Linked DNA regions of Homo sapiens. The protein of the gene in region 4 interacts with the protein of the main gene of each other region in a pairwise test. Each region holds a gene or a part of one and is shown on either strand. Other genes may lie near its edges.

Region 1 (3,697 bases), on a different chromosome or scaffold from region 4:
CTACCCTTAGTCACCTTTTAGTTTTCTGTGACACAAGGATCCATTCACATAAGTAATACAGGAACTCCTAAAGTAGCTCTCAGAATGCAATAGACACAGAATCAGAATGGTCAAGTTGAGCCCCTCAGTTAATGTTCATTGGCATACACTTCATCACCACTCACTCCGTGCCTTCGTCATAAGCACTGTTTTCCCATCATGTGTGCTGATGCATCCTCACACACCCCACTGTTACTACCTCGTTAGGTCTGTTTTAGGAAGTCAATTTTGGTCATTGACACTATGTTTTGGGCTAACCTGTGTGCTTCTACAATTCAAATTTTGAAGTCCTCACGCCAGTAGCTAAGAATATGACTGTCTGGAGACAGGTCTTTAACGAGGTAATTAAGTTAAAATGAAGTCAGGCCCCAATCCAATATGAGTGTGTCCTTATAAGAAGAGGAGATGTGGACACAGACAGATGCAGAGGGAACACCATGAGAAAACACAGGAAGAAGATGGACATCTGCAAGCCAAGGAGAGAGGCCTCGGAAGAAACCAGCCCTGCTGACACCTTGATCTTGGACTTCCAGATTACTTGGAAATGTGGAAGTCTGAAAATCTTGGATTTCCAGATTTATTCCAAGACAACAAATTTCTGTTTAAATTACCCAGTCTGTGTTACTTTGCTCTGGCAGCCCTAGCAGACTAATGTACTGTAGGAAGCAGAAAACAGTTAAAAATATCATTCCTTTACTGAAAAAAAAAAATAAGCCAATAGACAAGTTTCCTTATTCAAAGTTGGATGCCTGCTGGTATAAGTTAAAGAAAAAAAGACACTTGGTATCATTTGAGAGGCAGTGGAGAAAATTCTACTATTAACTATGTTTTTATTTGGATGTACAAATTAAATTACAACCATCCCTGGAGGAATGAACACATTACTCTCATTATTATTAGCAGCTTAATGGTATTTTGTGGAGTCAGTGAGATCTTTCACAAGTATCTAACTGAGATCAAACAGGCTGTAAAGAGAGGAAGTTTTAATGGGGTAAAAGAGTACAGAAAGAAGGGAAAAAACAAGTTTAGAATATGCAGAAAACTGAGTAGAGAAAGCAGCAACAAAACATGCCCAAAGAAAGAGAAGCCTATGAAGACAGGGAGAAACCGCACTCCTGCCGGAGCCAAATACCCTGCACATCACAAGCACAGCCAGGCTCTGGAGTTAATCTACTGCTCAAAGAGGGTCAAGCCTCCATCAATAACTAGTAATTTCCCCTCTCTCTCTGTCTCTGTCTCTCTCTCTCTCTCTCTCTCCCTCTCTGGAAGCAGAGAACAGACTGTTAAAGGATCTATGCATCTTGCAGGGACTGAGGCCCAAATAATCTCACTTTCACTTCCTTCCTTGCTAAAGTAAACAGTGTTCCAGGCATGACCCGACTGTACCACAATCTCCATTTGAATCACATTTTCTTCAGAGAAGTGCAAAGCACTTCAGACAGAATGCTTTCCTTTTTCATTTTCCATGTACTTTGTGCTATGCACATTACAGACTACAATCTCTCTCTGAAACCCAGAATACCCAGAGCAGGCATGTTAACAATTTCTGTGCCCTGGTACTCAGCATCATGACAAATCTCCATTACTGCAACCCACAAAGCCCGTGGACTCACAACTAACCCTATACCATTCTACATTCATATTTTCAACATTCTTCAAAAAAAGCATTGCTTTCTCTTTTGTACATTGAAGGAAACAAAAATGGAGACAATAAATGGCTTGCACAAGGCCACGATAAATTAGCAGAATGCCTAGAAATGTTCCCGATACTAACAAAAATGAGCAAACATGCTCTAACACTATAAAATCTTTATGTAGTTGACATATTGTAAGAACAAGCATATAATTAAAAATATGTAACAACTTTGCAACGTTCAAGCATGTGTGCATCCCAGCATCTGGTAATAAATGATGAAAGTTTAGAATGAAACGTCATTTGAAGATGGAAGATGCACTTAATATTCCAAAAATAGCTTTACTGGTATTTTAATTCTTCCTAAGATTGTAATCTTTCCAATTTCCCTTTTGTCAATATCATCTCCCATCCTCAGAGTTTGAAAACACATTCTACCTATGGACTACCAAACAGGTAGCAAAGAGGAAATTAAATGAGAGATCCCTCTCCTCCATAGACAAAAGCAGCTTCATGGCTGCTAGCATTTAGCATGAATTGTTAAGACAGAAGTTTGAATTATTTCCTTTACCTGTGATCTCAGGTAGGTAAGTGGACACTGAAGTATTTGGGCTTACTAGATCAAAGTGCTACTAATTCCTCAGTTTACTTCTAAGGACAATTCCAGAAAATTACTATGAAACTATAAATAGTGCAAACAACAAAAGGAATTAATTAAAAACCAACTGCTTATCTTTGACTTTAGAAGAGCCGATGATGTTACCAATTCAAAACTTAAGAGAATTGTTCTAGTGTTCTATGACCCTGCTCCAGGCCAAAATGGAAGGCCCCTCCTCTGAGCTCTTCTAGCACCCACAGGTTCCTTTACCTGGACACATTTGCCTGTGAACTTTTGTTCTGCACCCAAAACACCTGGAGAGATATCTACCAGACCCTCCCGTAGGCAGGAAGCATTTTGAGGGCAGGGTTTCTGATTTAGTTAATTTTGCATGGCCTGGGCGTGGTTCATATGAGTTGCTCATCCCAGTTGTCTTTCTCCAAAGGGCTGCAGTCAAATGTGAGTACTTAAGCAATGTATGCCTGGAGTTATATTTTGCTACATGAGCCTAGGGAAAGCTGGCCCCTTATCTTACAGATAAGAGAAAAGAAACCCAGAGGGCATATGTCTTTTGTTCCAGTCCTGCAGCTGGTTAGTGGTAAAGCCAGAATGAATAACCATGTTTCCTGACTCTAAATTCCAGCACTCTTTCCATACTTTGTACACTATATATAGATCTGTCCTTCCTGGCTTTGTACTTATATAACACTTGATAATTCATTGCCACAAGTCAGTAATTACATGGGCTTCACATCCTGGGAATTAGCAGATCTCACAGGCTAATTCCAGGAGGGGTATTCCAGCAGAATTCCTCCCTAAACCTTTGCTTTAGTAGCTGCACGTTCCATAACGCCCTCTGCAGGTGGGAAAAGGACAGCTATGGCCTGGTAAGTCAATGGGCTAAGTCCAGGCAGGCCATAGGTTGAACCTACCTTGAGGTGTTTGGAATAACTGAACACCTGTGCAGGTCTCTCTCAGGCCCCTAGCCCACTGGCAGAGATTTTACCTAGAGCCTGTGCATGCATGCTGTGCAGCACCTTCACCCAAACTAAAGCCCCAGTGGAGCTGGGCTTTTGGTTCAAGTAGAGTATAAGGGTTAAAAACCTAAGCTATGGAGTAGAACTGCTTAGTTTGACATATGAATCTGTTTCTTAATAGCTGTTCTGCCTTCAACACATTATTTAAATATTCTGTGTCTGTTTCCTCTTCTCCATAACATGGAGACAATGGATAATAATCCACCTCCTAGCATGGGATGAGATTTAACTAACGTACATGAAAACCAGCGGGATCCTGACGCACAGTAGGCATTAGAGAGATGGCCGGTATTATTAACATTACTACTACTCATCTGAAACAAAACAATTTTTAACCATTAACTGCACTTGTTGGTTTCACCATCCACTATGATTTGGCACCCAGTGAGC
Region 2 (3,697 bases), on a different chromosome or scaffold from region 4:
TGCCCGGCCGCCACCCCGTCTGGGAAGTGAGGAGCATCTCTGCCTGGCCGCCCATCGTCTGGGATGTGAGGAGCCCCTCTGCCCTGCTGCCCAGACTGGGAAGTGAGGAGCGCCTCTTCCTGGCCGCCATCCCGTCTAGGAAGTGAGGAGCGTCTCTGCCCGGCCGCCCATCGTCTGAGATGTGGGGAGCGCCTCTGCCCCGCCACCCCGTCTGGGATGTGGGGAGCGCCTCTGCCCCGCCACCCCATCTGGGATGTGAGGAGCGCCTCTGCCCGACCGCGACCCCGTCTGGGAGTTGAGGAGCGTCTCTGCCCGGCCGACCCGTCTGAGAAGTGAGGAGCCCCTCCGCCCAGCAGCCGCCCCGTCTGGGAAGTGAGGAGCCCCTCCGCCCGGCAGCCACCCCGTCTGGGAAGTGAGGAGCGTCTCCGCCCGGCAGCCGGCCCGTCTGGGAGGTGGGGGGCAGCCTCCGCCCAGCCAGCCGCCCCTTCCGGGAGGGAGGTGGGGGGCAGCCCCCGCCCGGCCAGCCGCCCCGTTGGGGAGTTGGGGGGCGCCTCCGCCTGGCCGCCGCCCCGTCCGAGAGGTGGGGGGGGCGCCTCTGCCCGGCCACCCCTTCTGGGAAGTGAGGAGCCCCTCTGCCCGGCCGCCACCTCATCTGGGAGGTGTACCCAACTGCTCATTGAGAACGGGCCATGATGACGATGGCGGTTTTGTCGAATAGAAAAGGGGGAAATGTGGGGAAAAGATAGAGAAATCAGATTGTTGCTGTGTTTGTGTAGAAAGAAGTAGACATAGGAGACTCCATTTTGTTCTGTACTAAGAAAAATTCTTCTGCCTTGGGATGCTGTTAATCTATAACCTTACCCCCAACCCCGTGCTCTCTGAAACATGTGCTGTGTCCACTCAGGGTTAAATGGATAAAGGGCGGTGCAAGATGTGCTTTGTTAAACAGATGCTTGAAGGCAGTTAAGAGTCATCACCACTCCCTAATCTCAAGTACCCAGGGACACAAACACTGCAGAAGGCCGCAGGGACCTCTGCCTAGGAAAACCAGAGACCCTTGTTCACTTGTTTATCTGCTGACCTTCCCTCCACTATTGTCCTATGACCCTGCCAAATCCCCCTCTGCGAGAAACACCCAAGAATGATCAATAAATACTAAAAAAAAAAAAAAAAAAAAAAAAATACAAGCCGCACACGGTGGCTCACGTCTGTAATCCCAGCACTTTGGGAGGCCGAGGCGGGCGATCACCTGAGGTCGGGAGTTCAAGACCAGCCTGATGAACATGGAGAAACCCCGACTCTACTAAAAGTACAAAATTAGCCGGGGGCATGGTGGCACATGCCTGTAATCCCAGCTACTTGGGAGGCTGAGGCAGGAGAATCACTTGAACCCAGGAGGCGGAGGTTGCGTTGAGCCAAGATCACGCCATTGCACACTAGCCTGGGCGACAAGGGCTAGACTCCGTCTCAAAAAAAAAAAAAAATTAGCCAGGTGTGGTGGCACGTGCCTGTAGTCCCAGCTACTAGGGAGGCTGGGGCAGAAGAATCCCTTAAACTCGGGAGGCGGAGGTTGCAGTGAGCCGAGCCCACGCCATTGCACTCCAGCCTGGGTGACAGAATGAGACTCTGTCTCAAAAAAAAAAAAAAAAAAAAAAAAGGGACAGAAAACAAACACACAGGCCAGCCAACTAGAAGACTAAATATAATGGCAGACATATATCCAAAATATCTGTAATTACAACAGATATGAATGGTCTCCATGCTCTAGTTAAAGAGGTTAGCTGATGGCTCACTCCTACAATCCCAGCACTTTGTGCGGGTGAGGTGGGAAGATCACTTGAGCCCAGGAGTTCACGACCAGCCCAGCCAACATAGCGATACACTCTAATTAATTAAAAAGAAGTTAGCAAGTTGCTAACTTAACAAAGCAAAATCCAGCTATGTGGCGTTCATGAAAGATATATCTAGAACATCCCACTACAATTGGCTAAAACTAAAAAGGCAACATAAAATGTTGGCAAGGATGTAGAACTCTTAAACCACTCAGTCTTTGAGAATGAATTCCCAATTCTTAGGGCATCCACTCTGTGTATAAGCTGAACTTTTTCCAGACACCTAGAATGAAATTCATTATGTACCATCCTTGACAGATTTGAGAAAATAGTAACTCAACTTTCTGTGTTCTGTGGTTCAGCTGACAAGCCTGAGAACAACTGTGCAACATGTGGAAAACACTTTAGCATTACTTAGTAAAAGTTACACATACCCTACATACAAACCAAAAATTCCACTCTCAGTTATGTAGTCTTGAGAAAATGGACTTTGTTTGTTGTGGGCAGGGTGGCAAATGTCCACATGAGGACAAGTAAAATTGGTAATCTCAAAAAACTGGAAATGAGACAAATATCCATCAACAATGAAATAGACAACATATGGCACATCCTTACAATGTAACCTCATACTACTATAAGAAATCAACGGGCCGGGCACGATGGCTAACACCTGTAATCCCGGCACTTTGGGAGGCCGAGGTGGGCAGATCGCTGGAGGTCAGGAGTTCGAGACCAGCCTGCCCAACATAGTGAACCCACAGCTCTACTAAAAATGCAAAAAAAAAAAAAAAAATTAGCCAGGCATGGTGGTGCCTGCCTGTAATCCCAGCTACTTGGGAGGCTGAGGCAGGAGAATTGCTTGAACCCAGGAGGCAGAGGTTGCAGTGAGCCAAGATCGCACCATTGCACTCTAGCCTGGGCAACAAGAGCAAACTCCATCTCAAAAAAAAAAAAAAAAACAAACAAGAGTCCATGACCAGCCTGGCCAACATGGTGAAACCCCGTCTCTACTAAGAATACAAAAATTAGCTGAGCATGGTGGCAGGTGTCTGTAATCCCAGCTACTCGGGAGGCCGAGGCAGGAGAATTGCTTGAACCAAGGAGGCAGAGGCTGCAGTGAGCTGAGAAGCCGAGATCGTGCCACTGGCATTCCAGCCTGGGCAAAAGAGCAAGACTCCGTCTTATAAAACAAAACAAAGAAAAAAGAAATCTACATGGGGGCTGGGTGCAGTGGCTCATGCCTGTAATACCAGAACTTTGGGAGGCCGAAGCAGGCAGATCACCTGAGGTCAGGAGTTCGAGACCAGCCTGGCTAACACAAGGAAACCCCGTCTCTACCAAAAAATACAAAAATTAGCCAGGCATGGTGGCGGGCACCTGTAGTCCCAGCTATTTGGGAGGCTGAGGAAGGAGAATCGCTTGAACCCGGGAGGTGAATGTTGCAGTGAGCCAGGATCGAGCCACTGCACTCCAGCCTGAGCAACAGACTGAGACCCTATCTCAAAAAAAAGAAATCAACATGGATAAATCTCAAGCATGTAAGAGTGAAAGAATCAAGCATCAGAAGAATCATACAATTCTTACATTGAGAATAAGACTGAAAATGGGCACTATTAAACCATATGTTGCTTACGGATATACATATAAGGTAAAATTATTGTAAAAAAGTAACAGTAGGCTGGGGTGGTGGCTCATGCCTGTAATCCCAGCACTTTGGGAGCTCAGGTGGGCGGATCATGAGGTCAGGAGTTTGAGACCAGCCTGGCCAACACAGTGAAACCCCATCTCTACCAAAAATACAAAAAATTAGCCAGGCGTGGTGGCGGGCACCTATAATCCGAGCTACTCGGGAGATGGAGGCTGGA
Region 3 (3,697 bases), on a different chromosome or scaffold from region 4:
TCATTGAATAAGCCATTTCTCTAAGACAGTGGCTTATTGAGATTTTATGCCATTTTCTTATTATTTAGTTGAGAAATACATTTTGTGAGGTTTCTATAGCAAAGCTGTCTTACTGCCTATGTGTAAATGGGTTTGCTTCTACACAAGTTGATTAATAGTCTGGCTTAAGCATCTGGTTTAACCATTGGTTTGAAAGTATAGGGGAGGAAAAAACCACGAACATTGTGGAGCATAAAATACATTACAGATAATAGGTAATCAGGCTGCAAAGGCCTTTAGTTCAAGATGTTCTTCTATCTCTAACTTGTCTAATCCAACCAAAAAAATTAGATTAGGATCTGTGTATACCAGTGAAACCAGTAGAACGACTGAGGTAAATCAGTATGTGTTGATTCTTCTTAAGGAAAATGTTAAAAGAGTTTTTTTCCCTCGTGTTCACTACATTTTCGTTCCTGTTCTGTTGCTATTCCCCCAAAATATGCACAGTCTTGAAACGCAGCTTTTAAAAACCTACTAAGATTATTAGGCAAAAGCAAACAAATCATAGCAAGATCCTTTTGGTATTTTATCATATACCTTTTGCAGCTGTGATTATTTGCTATCTTATTCATTCCAGCACTTTTTTTTTCCCTATGCTCTTTATTTATATGTTCTAGATAAATGCTAGGAAACTTCTCCAGTAAGGCAGCTTGGTTCCCCTGCCAAGCACTGTAGCCATATTCTTCCCTGACCTTTGCTCTTTGGGTGATGCTCTGCCATTCGTGCCCGTGCTTTCTATTTACATAAAGGATTAAAGATATGAATGATAGAGAAAAGCTAGCAGATTGCATCCATTTTCCTTGCTTTGCCTGGTTTCTAGTACCCCGATTCCATCATTTTTCACTTGGCATTTCTTTCATTGTCCTTTGCCTGGAAGCATCAGCCAGTCCTCAGGAGTGCTTGTTTGGGTGGATTTGACTTGGAGAAAAGCAGCAGTGATGGGAGAGTTTGACATCTGGAGACTAGCTCGCTGCCCTTCTGGGATAGACAGCAGTCTCTGGATGATCTTTCTGCTCTGTTACACTGCTGATAGTTTCAGAGATGAGCCTACTCAAGGGTCTGTAGTTCCAGTGTATTGTAAAAAATCAAATCACAGTGAACTCATAGCAAGCACTATTTTTTCTCAGTTCTTAAGAAAGGAGACCTCCTTTCTAGGTTATATAATCTAGATCATTCTGTGAGGATAAGGTGGAGGCAGGGATCTAGCATTTGCAGAAGTTTGGTGAGAAAGCATGTGTTGCTCAAGAAAGGACAAGTTCAGTGTTGAAGTGTAGATGGCCTGGTGGGCAGGGGAGCAGTGGAGCTGGAGGGACAGGCTGGGAACAGGCTACAGAGGCCCTGAAATCTCCTATGGAGTCTGGAGTTTAGTGATGTGATCTGATTTGTATTTTCTTAGAAGTTTCCCAATTGCAGTGATGGACTGTAGTGTTCCAATAAAAGCCCTCTGGTTTCAGGGCTGGAGGGAGAGAGAGCAGGAAGACTGATCCAGGTTGAAGAAGGCTTGGATTTGGGTGATGGCAGCAAGGATGGAAAGTTAGTGGACAAATTCAAATTTGAGAGCTGCGATGACTGGGTGGAGGGAAAGGGGGAGAAATACATGAAAAGGTTGTATTACGTTTCCTCCCCATCTCAGCGTGAGACCTGGGACTCCTGTCTTCTGTCATCACTTCTTAGTCCTCACACTTGTGAGAGGCAAACTGTATTATAGGTCGCCTCCTACCTCACAAGTCACAATAGGATTCAAGAGCAAATGCATCTGAGCCTCTTTAAGAGGCCTACAATTGCAAGGAAATTAGACAGATCTTCAAAATTAGCTGCTGGTAGATGATCACATTTGGCATTGGCACTTGTGACTCTTGTGTGCTCCCAATGCCTGCTGGTGGAACTAAACTTCCACTGTGCCTTTGGCTGCTAAAAATGCTGGTAGGATCATAATGCATGCAGCTTCTGCAGAGACTTCTTTGGAATACCTCAGTAAGTCTGACTTCATGTTATATCTATACTGAGTAAGATGGAAACCAGGGCCGAGCGGCAGTGGCTCATGTCTGTAATCTCAACACTTTGAGAGACTGAGATGAGAGAATCACTTGAGGCCAGGAGTTCAAGACCAACCTGGGTAACACAGCAAGACCCTGTCTCTACAAAAAATTTTTAAAAAATTAGCCAGGTGTGGTGGCATGCATCTGTAGCCTCAGCTGCTTAGGAGGCTGAGGCAAGATCAGTTTGAGCCCAGGAGTTTGAGGTTGCAGTGAGCCATGATAGCGCCACTGCACTGCAGCCTGGGCAACAAAGTGAGATCCTATCTTAAAAAAAAAAAAGAAGATGGAAACTAGGCCCTTCTTTTATGTTTCTTAGGAGCCCTTAGGAATATACTTTTTGTTTGTTTTGTTTTGAGATGGAGTTTCTTTCTGTTGCCCAGGCAGGAGCGCAGTGGTGGGATCTTGGCTCACTGCAACCTCTGTCTCTGGGGTTCAAACGATTCTCCTGCCTCGGTCTCCCAAGTAGCTGGGATTACAGGCGTGTGCCACCATGCCCAGCTAATTTTTGTATTTTTAGTAGAGACGAGGTCTCACCATGTTGGCCAGGCTAGTCTCGAACTCCTGACCTCAAATAATCCACCTGCCTTAGCCTCCCAAAGTGCTGGGATTACAGGCATGAGCTACCATGCCTGGCCAGGAGAAGGATTTTTGAGCAGAATTCAAACCAATGATTTTTGTCTTCCCTGTGCCGGGTATTTGAAAAAACCATAGAGGGGAAGGAAAGGCAGTCTGTGTGTGTATACCATGACAGAGGGAGAAGCTGAAATAAAATGTGCCCCGAGAAGAATTAGGGCTGGGAGGATGGAACAGCAAGAATGATCCTAAATCAAGTATAATAATTTTTTGTGTTTGTTTTTTTTTTTGAGACAGAGTCTCACTCTGTTGCCCAAGCTGGAATGCAGTGGCATGATCTTGGCTCACTGCAACCCCCGCCTCCCGGGTTCAAGTGGTTCTCCTGCCTCAGCCTCCCAAGTAGTTGGGACTACGGGCACACGCCACCATGCCCAGCTAATTTTTGTGTTTTTAGTGGAGACGGGGTTTCGCAATATTGGTCAGGTTGGTCTTGAACTCCTGGCCTCGTGATCCACCTGCCTCAGCCTCCCAAAGTGCTGGGATTACAGGCATGAGCAACTGTGCCCAGCCTAATAATGCTTTTTTAAAAAATAGCCCGGGCGCGGTGGCTTATGCCTGTAATCCCAGCACTTTGGGAGGCCAAGGCAGGTGGATTGCTTGAGGTCAGGAGTTTGAAACCAGCCTAGCCAACATGGCGAAACCCCATCTCCACTAAAAATAGAAAAATAAGCCAGGCATGGTGGCATGCGCCTGTAATCCCAGCTACTTGGGAGGCTGATACAGGAGAATTGCTTGAACCCAGGAGGCGGAGGTTGCAGTGAGCTGAGATCATACCACTGCACTCTAGCCTGGGCGACAGAGTGAGACCCTGTCTCAATAAAAACCAAAACAAAAGCAAAACAAAAAATATAGACGTGCGCCTTTTTCATTTAACGTGTGTGTGTGTGTGTGTGTGTGTGTGTGTGTGTGTGTGTACTGGTGAGAGGTTTGAAATCAAGGCTCTTTTCTCCCTCTAGAGGTTTAAGGACTGTATTGGAGTGGACTCA
Region 4 (2,538 bases):
AACTCAGAATCCACCATGCTACACAAGCTATTTGAACTTCTGGGCTGCCTGGTCCCAAACTGTACAATTGTAATATGTCATCTGAAGAGTATTCCATACTTTCATTGTATACCATCACATACATAATTCAGGTTATTCCTCTGTTTGTAGAGGATCGAAACCAAAGTTCAGAGAATGATGGCCTGGCTTGGGTCCCATAGTCAGAAGCAGAGCCCAGACTGGCTTCCCACCAGCCCTACAAGTCACCCCCTTCCTATGTAATCAGTTCTGACATCCAGAGAATAGTAGCGGGCCTCCTTTGTTATACAAAAATAGTTTTTTCCCTGGCATTTTTCTGAGCAGAAGACTACAAGAACTAGGGAAATACATCACAAAAAGTTTTGTGTTTTTTTGTTTGTTTGTTTTTACCATATTAGGGACCAATTCATAATAGCAATTAACCTTCTGAGGTTGGTGGAATAACAATAAAAAGACTGCAAAGATGGCTATAATTTTCAGAGTTAAAAAATGCAAACCATACTGTGGCAAAACCTTAATTCTGAGCCCACTAAATCAAAACTTGTATACAAACAGCAGCTACCCCTATGCTCCTCTGCCAGCCAGATAAAATGTCAGGGTATGAAGGCTCAGCTGATGAAGGAGCACAAACGGGTTCTCAGTCATCTTGGCAGGGCCTGTTCTGCAGGCTTTATCAAGCCCAGATGGTCTTTATCCACCCGTGAACCTCCTTGTGCAGAGTGAGGCCTGACGGCCTTGGCCCTAAAATCACCAGACCTGGCTTCAAACCCCAGCTGGCACATTTTCCAGAGGTGCAACCTTGCACCTCCATTTCCTTCTGTGTAAAACAGAGATAACCACAGCTCCTACCTGCCCAGGCTGCTGAGAGGAGGTGAGATGGATACAATGCAGGAACACAGCGGTAGCACTTACTGTTATTTTTTTATTGTTATTATCTTACCTTTTTTTTTTTTTTTTTTGAGACAGGGTCTCACTCTGTCACCCAGGCTAGAATGCAGTGGCACAATCCTGGCTCACTACAACCTCCACCTCCCAGGTTCAAGCAATCCTCCCACGTCAGCTTCCCAAGTAGCTGAGACTACAGGTGCTAATTTTTGTATTTTTGTAGAGAGAGGGTTTTGCCATGTTGCCCAGGCTGGTCTCAAACTCCTGACCTCAAATGATCCATCCTCCTCAGCCACCCAAAGTGCTGGGATTACAGGTGTGAACCACCATGCCAGGCCTACTTGACAATACTTCTGCTGGTCCTTGATTTTGATTTCTGCGTGTACATAAAAGTAATAAAAGCCAAGTATGCATAACTATATTTCAGATGGGTTAGCTGCTCCCCCAAAGTGAGTCTGAACTAGGAAGGGGGAGGCGGGACCTGAGGTGCTGCTCCTCACCTGGTACTCCTCCTCCAGGCGTGACAGCAGCACGGCCTGCTCCACTGTCAGGCGCAGGTCAATCAGGCCCAAGGTTAGCACCATGGACTTGAGCTGGGCAGCTACAAACTCAATCCCTGCAGGGACACAAGCCAAGTCAGAACCCAAAACAGGGCAGCTGCCACAACCTACCCCTTGTGAGTCCCAGCAGCCCTAGCAGAGAACAGGAGTGAGTGGTGCAAAGAGCCATCCAGCGATTGTCCCACTCTTCTGAAAGAGCACTCTGGTCTTCCCTGGGGGTGATCCTCCTCTGCTCTTACCTAGTGAGACACATGACCCGAACTTGGCAAATCAGAGCTTTCCGCACCCAGTCTAGTGATTGGTTCATGGATGGACATGTGACCCAAGCCAGGGCAATGAGATTGAACTCAAGACTTCTGCTGGCGAAGTCGAAGGTGGAAAGGTGTGAGCCTAGAGCGTAGAGTGATTGGCTAGCATCAGAGCCACCCAGCCTCCACACTCAGCTAGCCCAGAACACTCTGTGCCTCTCCACTCACAGGACCTGGGGAGGGGCAAGTACAGGCTTCAGACACTGATGGCCTTCACAGCCACCTGCCAAGCCCACAAGAAACTCCATACATGCCTTGTAAAGCCCATGTGTTGTAAGATGCCAGGTGGCTGACGAGCACCTCCCGAGTTTTGGCAGGGATGCTGGGTCCCATTATGCTGGTGGAGGAGCTGATCTCCACGCCGTATCTGAAAGGAAAAGGGCTTCGGCATGTCTCTGTCATGCTGTAGCCCAAGAGCAGCCCACCTTTTGACTAGAAACAAAGGCCTAAGCTTCAGAGCATGTGTGTGCATTGGCCAAGGAGCTAGTCTTGACTACAGGAGCAACTGCCACCATGGTCAGTGGCCTCCCGACCTGATTTTCTGTCCCTCAAAAGCAAACTTGGAGGACCAAGAAACTGTGCTGAATGAAGGGATGGTTCCTGAGTCATGTGAGCTAGGGCTCGGTTATACGCAGCTGCCTGAAATGCTCATTCATTCACCTGGAATCTCCATCAAAAGGCCATCTGCCTTTTACATCTCTTTAAAGTTTTTCACATTTGAGGACATATAAAAGTTAAAAACAATATTTAAAATGGTTTTCCTTAAA

Evidence for each region. Proteins that work in one complex are often made in the same cells at the same time.
Region 1: the proteins of ATPAF2 (region 4) and VWC2 interact in binary tests that used the Homo sapiens proteins (3 or more experiments, as listed by UniProt).
Region 2: the proteins of ATPAF2 (region 4) and UBAP2 interact in binary tests that used the Homo sapiens proteins (3 or more experiments, as listed by UniProt).
Region 3: the proteins of ATPAF2 (region 4) and FNTB interact in binary tests that used the Homo sapiens proteins (3 or more experiments, as listed by UniProt).

The regions. Positions count from the first base shown.
Region 1 is NC_000007.14:49,776,638-49,780,334, reverse strand, and holds part of VWC2 (brorin precursor), read right to left. Parts: intron 1-3,697. UniProt on the Homo sapiens protein: BMP antagonist which may play a role in neural development. Promotes cell adhesion.
Region 2 is NC_000009.12:34,038,691-34,042,387, forward strand, and holds part of UBAP2 (ubiquitin-associated protein 2), read right to left. Parts: intron 1-3,697. UniProt on the Homo sapiens protein: Recruits the ubiquitination machinery to RNA polymerase II for polyubiquitination, removal and degradation, when the transcription-coupled nucleotide excision repair (TC-NER) machinery fails to resolve DNA damage. May promote the degradation of ANXA2.
Region 3 is NC_000014.9:65,028,395-65,032,091, forward strand, and holds part of FNTB (protein farnesyltransferase subunit beta), read left to right. Parts: intron 1-3,697. UniProt on the Homo sapiens protein: Essential subunit of the farnesyltransferase complex. Catalyzes the transfer of a farnesyl moiety from farnesyl diphosphate to a cysteine at the fourth position from the C-terminus of several proteins having the C-terminal sequence Cys-aliphatic-aliphatic-X.
Region 4 is NC_000017.11:18,019,720-18,022,257, forward strand, and holds part of ATPAF2 (ATP synthase mitochondrial F1 complex assembly factor 2), read right to left. Parts: intron 2,139-2,538; coding exon 2,026-2,138; intron 1,945-2,025; exon of another isoform or gene 1,703-1,944; intron 1,520-1,702; coding exon 1,404-1,519; intron 1,280-1,403; coding exon of another isoform or gene 1,241-1,279; exon of another isoform or gene 921-1,240; intron 1-920. UniProt on the Homo sapiens protein: Plays a role in the assembly of the F1 component of the mitochondrial ATP synthase (ATPase).